Regions from separate parts of the Homo sapiens genome. Here region 2 is linked to region 1. Evidence: fine-mapped QTL for protein levels in blood plasma. A gene starts in region 1. The other region holds a variant in brackets. All regions are shown on one strand. Distances are between the middles of the regions.

Region 1 (4,405 bases):
AACCAGAAAATACATTCTAACTAGAACTTTCACCCATTGTGCATCATTTTTACCTTGTTTTAGAGAACTGGGTATTCTATTTTTCTTGCTTCCATTAAAGAACAAGTCGATACTCAACAGTTAATAAATCTCTGATGGCAGTATACACTAATGTTGTCTAGCAGTACATTCTATCTCCTGCTAGAAATATACCTTCCTGGGCATGAAACTGTGTTTACCATTTTACATTCTTATTACTACTACATGACTCTTGGCAGGGAATAAAAGTTTGTTAAGTTAATGAATGGGTGACCTTCAAATAATTACTAGTTATGAAACCATGAGCAACTCACACTCTGGATCTCAGTGCTCTCTTCTCTAAATGAGGCAGTTGGACCAATTGACCCCCAATGTGCCATATTAAGATAGTTGTTGGAGAGAGAGGGAGCTCTTCATTAAAAAAAAAAAAACACACACACACACACACACACACACACAAACCACTGGATTTATAAAAGCTAGAAGATTACTCATATCAAGAATATGGGCATGGGATAATGTCAAAAGACAATTCGTTTTTAGAAAAGTTTCATTATGTTGGCCAGAAAAGGAAGTAACTGAAGCAAGTGATAAATACTGCATGGAGAAGGACCCAAGGAGTTGGGAGGGGCGGGGCGGGGGGGGAGCGGAATGCATGGGAGGAACAAGAATAATTGGAATGCTATAAATATTGATTCACATTACTCTTGCATTATTCACAATAGCAAGTGCCTCAAAGTATTGCTTAGTATCAAGTGAAATAAAAGGCATTTTCTGCCTAAACTGTTTAATCTAGAAGTTTGAAACAAACTGTACCCCATTCTCTAACAAAATTGTTAAACTGAAATTACAAAAGAGGTAACCTGCTCAAAGTTTGAAAGACATGGTTGGTTTATTTATAGATGCTAGCAAAGTCTGCTCTGCTGAAGACCATCAGAGCCACAGTTTTCAAGAATGTCAATATGCAATAGTTAAAATATTAATAATATTAAGTTATGGGCTCTAAGTCCTTTCTTGTCACTTTTCATTGACACAAATATACTTCTTATTTAACTGAAAGCAATCCCTAAAGCTTATTTATGTAAAAATGCACTAGCCAACAGAAATAGCTACAACCAAAATTACATTACCTAAAAAATTCTAGAAAGGTATGAGAAATTTATTTCTATTCAGCAAATTAAGAAACTTTCACTCAGAATATACTTTCTTGTTGCATTTCTCACCACGAACACTCCAGTAATATTAATACCTAAGTGAAGTTTTTTAATTTAAAAAACATTTTTATATCACTGAGTAATTTGCAAATGCATTTGAAATGCTTCAAAAAGAACTAAATAAAACTGCCTTAACGTCCATTTGAAAATATAAATCTACTTCTGCATTCAACCAAGTTGACCGTTTTCCTTTGACCAAGTTAGTAAAGCCAGTGGAGTAGGGAGGTGGTGTTGGTAGAGTTTCTCTGCAAAGCCACCTGCCAAGAAGCAGGGCTACCAATTCACCAGGCTGGGATTTGTCAGGCCGGGCAGGTAAATGCGTGACGCTACACATGAGCGGTTTTTCTGTGCTTACCGACTGTTGAAAATAATTACGTATAATTTTAAACGCGCATTGCTTTAAAACAGGTTGCAAAGTGATTTTAGAAACTACAGGACCCTGACCCGGGTGCTGGGGAAAGTTCCAGCTCCTCAGAAGTTGCAGACACTGAGGGTAGCCCGCTGGCCAGAACTCCCAGCGCGCTCCCTCCTCGTGGCGTCCAGATGCCCCTCAGAGAAGTCAGGGACAGAAGAACCCTCTGGGCTGCCTGGCGGCAGGATAAAAAGGAGAAGCCCTGTCTCAGGGACGCCCTGGCCTCAGTGCCCGAGTGCAGTTGTCTAACGATGGCCCGTGGTCTCCGCAGAGCCCCGTAGCCCGGCCTCGGCGTCAAGCCCCTCCGAATGCGCGACTACCCACCTGGGGGCGCTGGGCCGCAGGGGGCGGGGTCCGGGCTCCCAAGCCCCTTGCCTGGCGCTGCTGGCAGCATTGTGGCGGTTGAAGCCGAGGGGCCTGCGCACTGCTGCCCGCCGAGCGCTACCTGGACTCTCCCGGCCAGAGACTCCCCGCGATTTTCTCTTCCTTTGGCCCTCGGCTCTCCCCAGCCCGCTTGCCACCCGCGGAGGCTGCGGCCAGGTCTCAGGAAACGCAGCCCCGGGGCTCATGCCCGCAAGGCCAGGGCTCCGCTCTGCTGGGCGCCCAGAGGAAGTGAAACTGCTCAGGGGCCTGCTCTTACATCCCTTCTCAAAAGGCCGCTTTGGTTTCTTATAACACTTCTGCGCCTGTTTCCTTCCTCACCTTTTCATCCTAGGATATATTTAGACCGCTGTTATTGTAGCTCTCCTTGTCCCTTTCTAGGTCTTCCATACTGCCATACTGCCCCCACTTCCAGGCAGACGTAGGGAAACCAGAAGTGAACATTTGCTGGAAAGAAAGAATAATTAGATAGATAGATGAGTAGGTACACAGATGATAGATACATACATATAGAAATGAAGATACAGATAATACTGTAACTTTTAAAATATTTCATTTTACACAGACTTTCTAGGCTAGGTTCATAAATTGAAAAGTGATTTAAAATTCCATATAAAATGTATTTCTTACTCCTGCTCCAACTCAAAAATAGACCCAGTAAAAAATTATTTATGGCTCTAAATACCCTCTCCAAACAAGAGTTTGTTTGCTTGTTTTTAAGATGGAGATATATCAAAGGAGTTGTCCCAGAACCTTAAAGTGAATGTCTCTCTCTCAAGCATGTCTAAACTAGTCATTTGCCTTTTGAAGTTGAATATATTTTTTGAATATCAATTTGGTAATAATACATAGTTTAAATGTTCCTCTCCTCTTCCTATAAAAGGAAGGCTTTCTTTGAAACTTTCTCTCGGATGAAGTGCTTTTTAGTAATAATATAAATATCAAGTATCAAAAAAAGTTAATTTTTTCACATAAATGAACTTATTAGAACTTTATAACATAATGTAGAAAACTTGGAGAAGTATGCGAAATGTCCAAAAAACTTGAAAACAATTATAGATTGTATTGTATTTATCTGGTTTCCAGTAGTTTCTTTAACATCATTATTAATTTTATGTTGATTTTCTGAACTTTATATAATGGAACAAAAGATTTCATCTAACTTATGAAATATTATATTGAAAAAAATGGTTGTCTTCTATATATGCCTGTTAACAGAGAGACTTCAGTGTAATAGGCAAAAACAAATTTGGATTGCAGGGTTTGGGTGTTGTTCAGTGTTTCAGAAACTCAATTCTTAGGAAAGTATGTCTTAAACCCATTGGAGAAAAGAATATTCTAACTGATGCATCTGCTGGTATACGTATTCCTGACAAGAGCTACTTTAGCCAACATGAACACTCCAGATGATGCTCCCCAATTAAGTATCCAGATCTTCAAAGGCACCCATTTATGCACACGAAAACTTGTTAATAAAGACAGTGTTCAGATAGGAACTTGTATCTGTCACATATACAGGACAGCCTTCTTGTATGAAGAGCCCTGGATTGGAAGTCAGAAGGTTGCAGCTGCCATCCTGACTCTGCTCCACAATATCTGGGTGTTTGGAGCAATTCTTAATATTTCTGAGCCTTGCGTATCTCATCTAATTTATTCATTATTAATGAATAAATTAAAATTACTGTATTCGAGTTTCTGCCAGATATAAAATGTTATAACACTGTCTCCTAATAAAACTATAGAAAATAAGATTTATAATATGAAAATTAAGTATATTTTCAGAAGCTCATTTCCACTACTTATGTCAAATGATGCTAGTAAATAGAAAAAAGAAAGTAAAAACTGCTGAAAATTGTGGGCTGTTTTTTTTTTAAAAAAAATAAGATTATGTGTTAGAAAATCTTTAAAATCTCCCATTAAAATTATTCTAGCTTCACTTTTCTTTTGAATAAGAAAATAGCCATTGACTACCCCATTGACTGACTTATTTATTCTTTTGTTTTACTGTTTGCAGTCAACAACTACTCTTTTTTTAAGTATTCTATATCCTATGTTCTATGTAAGAGTTTCACAATATTCATGTCATTTGGTTCTCAAAACAAGGAAGGTTTAACCATATTTTACAAATGAAGAATCTGGGCGTTGAAAACTGTAAGTGGCAGAGCTGGAATTCAATCCTAGATCTGATTTCATAGCCTGCCCTCTTAATTATAACTGCCCCCCTCCCCACCGCTTCCTTTTAAGGTCACATAAGGCCCTTGCTAAAGATTACATGAACATAATAGGATAGGTTATACATATATGTGTTGAAAACGTTTTTTGTTTCCCTATCCACTTTTCCACAGAACTATAAGCCCATACAATTAAATACTAATATCCT
Region 2 (4,405 bases), 250 kb before region 1:
TCTTGTATTAATTGTATTATGGCAAAATTATATTGTGTGAGATTAAGAGTAAGATTTATGTCTTTAATCCATCTTGAATTGATTTTTGTATAAGGTATAAGGAAGGGATCCAGTTTCAGCTTTCTACATATGGCTGGCCAGTTTTCCCAGCACCATTTATTAAATAGGGAATCCTTTCCCCATTGCTTGTTTTTCTCAGGTTTCTCAAAGATCAGATAGTTGTAGATATGCGGCGTTATTTCTGAGGGCTCTGTTCTGTTCCATTGATCTATATCTCTGTTTTGGTACCAGTACCATGCTGTTTTGGTTACTGTAGCCTTGTAGTATAGTTTGAAGTCAGGTAGCGTGATGCCTCCAGCTTTGTTCTTTTGGCTTAGGATTGACTTGGCAATGCGGGCTCTTTTTTGGTTCCATATGAACTTTAAAGTAGTTTTTTCCAATTCTGTGAAGAAAGTCATTGGTAGCTTGATGGGGATGGCATTGAATGTATAAATTACCTTGGGCAGTACGGCCATTTTCACGATATTGATTCTTCCTACCCATGAGCATGAAATGTTCTTCCATTTGTTTGTATCCTCTTTTATTTCCTTGAGCAGTGGTTTGTAGTTCTCCTTGAAGAGGTCCTTCACATCCCTTGTAAGTTGGATTCCTAGGTATTTTATTCTCTTTGAAGCAATTGTGAATGGGAGTTCACTCATGATTTGGCTCTCTGTTTGTCTGATGTTGGTGTATAAGAATGCTTGTGATTTTTGTACATTGATTTTGTATCCTGAGACTTTGCTGAAGCTGCTTATCAGCTTAAGGAGATTTTGGGCTGAGACAATGGGGTTTTCTAGATATACAATCATGTCGTCTGCAAACAGGGACAATTTGACTTCCTCTTTTTCCCAATTGAATACCCTTTATTTCCTTCTCCTGCCTCATTGCCTTGGCCAGAACTTCCAACACTATGTTGAATAGGAGTGGTGAGAGAGGGCATCCCTGTCTTGTGCCAGTTTTCAAAGGGAATGCTTCCAGTTTTTGCCCATTCAGTATGATATTGGCTGTGGGTTTGTCATAGATACGCTCTTATTATTTTGAGATATGTCCCATCAATACCTAATTTACTGAGATTTTTTAGCATGAAGCGTTGTTGAATTTTGTCAAAGGCTTTTTCTGCAAATATTGAGATAATCAAGATGGATTAAAGGCTTAAACGTTAGACCTAAAACCATAAAAACCCTAGAAGAAAACCTAGGCATTACCATTCAGGACATAGGCATGGGCAAGGACTTCATGTATAAAACACCAAAGCAATGGCAACAAAAGCCAAAATTGACAAATGGGATCTAATTAAACTAAAGAGCTTCTGCACAGCAAAAGAAACTACCATCAGAGTGAACAGGCAACCTACAAAATGGGAGAAAATTTTCGCAACCTACTCATCTGACAAAGGGCTAATATCCAGAATCTACAATGAACTCAAACAAATTTACAAGAAAAAAACAAACAACCCCATCAAAAAGTGGGCGAAGGACATGAACAGACACTTCTCAAAAGAAGACATTTATGCAGCCAAAAAACACATGAAAAAATGCTCACCATCACTGGCCATCAGAGAAATGCAAATCAAAACCACAATGAGATACCATCTCACACCAGTTAGAATGGCAATCATTAAAAAGTCAGGAAACAACAGGTGCTGGAGAGGATGTGGAGAAATAGGAACACTTTTACACTGTTGGTGGGACTGTAAACTAGTTCAACCATTGTGGAAGTCAGTGTGGCGATTCCTCAGGGATCTAGAACTGGAAATACCATTTGACCCAGCCATCCCATTACTGGGTATATACCCAAAGGACTATAAATCATGCTGCTATAAAGACACATGCACACGTATGTTTATTGCGGCATTATTCACAATAGCAAAGACTTGGAACCAACCCAAATGTCCAACAATGATAGACTGGATTAAGAAAATGTGGCACATACACACAGTGGAATACTATGCAGCCATAAAAAATGATGAGTTCATATCCTCTGTAGGGACATGGATGAAATTGGAAATCATCATTCTCAGTAAACTGTCGCAAGAACAAAAAACCAAACACCGCATGTTCTCACTCATAGGTGGGAATTGAACAATGAGATCACATGGACACAGGAAGGGGAATATCACACTCTGGGGACTGTTGTGGGGTGAGGGGAGTGGGGAGGGATAGCATCGGGAGATATACCTAATGCTAGATGACAAGTTAGTGGGTGCAGCACACCAGTATGGCACATGTATACATATGTAACTAACTTGCACAATGTGCACATGTACCCTAAAACTTAAAGTATAATAATAATAAAAAAAAGAGTAAGATTTATAAAGCACACAATTACATACTTCTGTCCTAGGAGGCTTTACTCTGTATTCATAAGATTTCTTGATATTTTACCTAGAGATTACTAAATAGATTGAAGTTAGTGTTAGTACCTTGTTTCTTAGGAAGACCAC[A/G]GAACTTGTCATCATCAGATTGTCTTCTGGCTGTCTTTTGTTGAAACACTGTAAAAAGTATAGAACATATTATTTACTGAACATAAACGTTCAAAAAATCCATACTGTAGAAGTCTCCAGGAAGCCAGAATGCAATATATCATTTTCCTGAGTATCAGTTCCTGAATTGTATTACTTTTGAGTAGGAAGATTATCAAATTTACAATTTTCTCATTTGTGCAGCTTATCAGTCATTTCAGAAAGCATTTTCATTGAGCAGAGTAGTATAATGCTGATGCAATGCCTCATTAAACTATTTAAATCAAGATATGATTCCATTTTGATATCAGGTAAGAATAAAAGCTGCATTGTGTTAAAAGCGATAAATGTTAAAATCATATGAAAAATTCCATTTGCACAGAAATTACCCATGCTGACTTTTTGATGATAAGCAAGGATAATGACTGTTTCTCCTTAAATAGGTAAAAAGACTCTTGTATTTCAGAGATGTAATAATAAAAAAGACACTTTATTCTTGCATCATCTATCTAGACCGCAGACTTATTAAAACAGCTTATTCGAATTACTTCATTATCTGAAAAGTGCTTTGTTCTCATTTATTATTTCTCACACGAAATTCTGGGAGACAAGTCAGCATTACTCACCCCATTTTGCAGATGAAAGATAAAGTTGATTGTTTGATATTTATTGAGGACCCACAAAGTTCCATATAGCTTCTGGCATTTGTTAATAAAAAAGTCCAGACTCTTTACAACTTTACTTTAGAAAATGAACATCCCAGAGTTACATTTATTTTTTATGGGCAGTGTGAATTACAGGGTTTGGGAACTGGAAAAGGCTTTGGAGATTTAGTCCAACCTCATATGTTTATAGATGAGGGAGTTGGAAGTAACTAGCTTGTAAAAAGGCTAAGTAATTTTGCAATGATCTCAGAGTTGTTGTTAGCAGAGATGTGATTTAAACCGAGAAGCCTTGAACTTCAATCTATTGCGTGGTTCCTTACAGCACTACTGCCACTTCCCCTCCATAACTATTATCTTATAAAGGTAAAGAAGGAGATAGAGGGAGAGGATTAAAAGGGAAATTAGAACATTTCCAACACAGTTGTATCTCTTGTTCCTTTTAGCAGTTCGACAGAATTTCCTGGGATAATTGAGCTGAGGCCTGTGGGAGTGAACGTGTTTTAACTGGATGGTGCTGGACCACTGTGATTGGCAGAAACATCCCGACAGTTATCCTAGATTTCTGTCTTTGGTTTTTATATTATTTAAACCAATATAAGATCAAGGACATATCTGTGATTAACCCCGGAGACGTTTTTTAGATGAAAATTTCCCCCCATCTGATCAAAAATTAGTAATTAAAAATGTATGATTTGCCAGATGCTGTCAAGACAAAGAGTACTCCCTTCAACTGTGCTCTTTTAAACAGAAGAGGCAAAATATGTTTCAAAGTTTGACGTGTTTGAGAAAAAGTATACACATAAAATCATATTTTTGGTTGAAAACCAGTTTTCTGCTTCAAGTTAGTACATGGAAAACATGCTAAATATAACTAACTGGCAAGTTCTGGGTTTGTGGCTTACTTACATTTTTTCTAAAATAAAATATATTGAGGAATATATAATGTATGACTATACGTTAGGATATTAAAATAAATGTTGTAAGAGGTACTTGATTTTTTTCTATTTGCTAGTTTTAAAAGTCTTTAAAATGCAATGCTTTAAAAATTTTAATAACGTGGTCTCTATGCTTTTTTGCCAATATTGTTAAGATATAACTGAGAATGGTTAAGAGGAAAAAGCTGGCGTCATTCATATGGGAAATGACCTGAATCCAAAGATCTATTCAGATAATAAATTCTTCAAATAAAAATTACATTAATTGATAAGTTTTTAAAATTCTGCTGAGGTTTGAAGCTACA

Which allele goes with the higher level. Positions count from the first base shown, and alleles are read on the strand shown. Strength reflects both the effect of a copy and how common the allele is.
As copies of A replace G in region 2, the plasma level of the protein whose gene starts at base 2,189 in region 1 goes down (moderate association).

Evidence for each region. PIP is the posterior inclusion probability: the model's chance that the variant is causal. Protein levels are from antibody-based Olink assays in UK Biobank. Linkage for the fine-mapping came from a reference panel and not from the study's own genotypes, which makes the PIPs less certain.
Region 2: its variant is fine-mapped to the plasma level of the BANK1 protein (UK Biobank, PIP above 0.99). The variant lies in the coding sequence of BANK1. If it changes the protein, the assay may bind it differently, which can mimic a change of level.

The regions. Positions count from the first base shown.
Region 1 is chr4:101,788,514-101,792,918 of GRCh38, reverse strand. It overlaps BANK1 (B cell scaffold protein with ankyrin repeats 1), which reads right to left and starts at 2,189. Exons shown (of 17, transcript NM_017935.5): 1 at 1,969-2,189. The coding sequence starts at 2,038. RefSeq lists a silencer at 1,913-2,102.
Region 2 is chr4:102,041,964-102,046,368 of GRCh38, reverse strand. It overlaps BANK1 (B cell scaffold protein with ankyrin repeats 1), which reads right to left. Exons shown (of 17, transcript NM_017935.5): 11 at 2,462-2,530. Among named protein-coding and RNA genes, the nearest start is that of BANK1, 250 kb to the right of the region's middle. The variant A/G (reference allele first, on the strand shown) is at 2,483.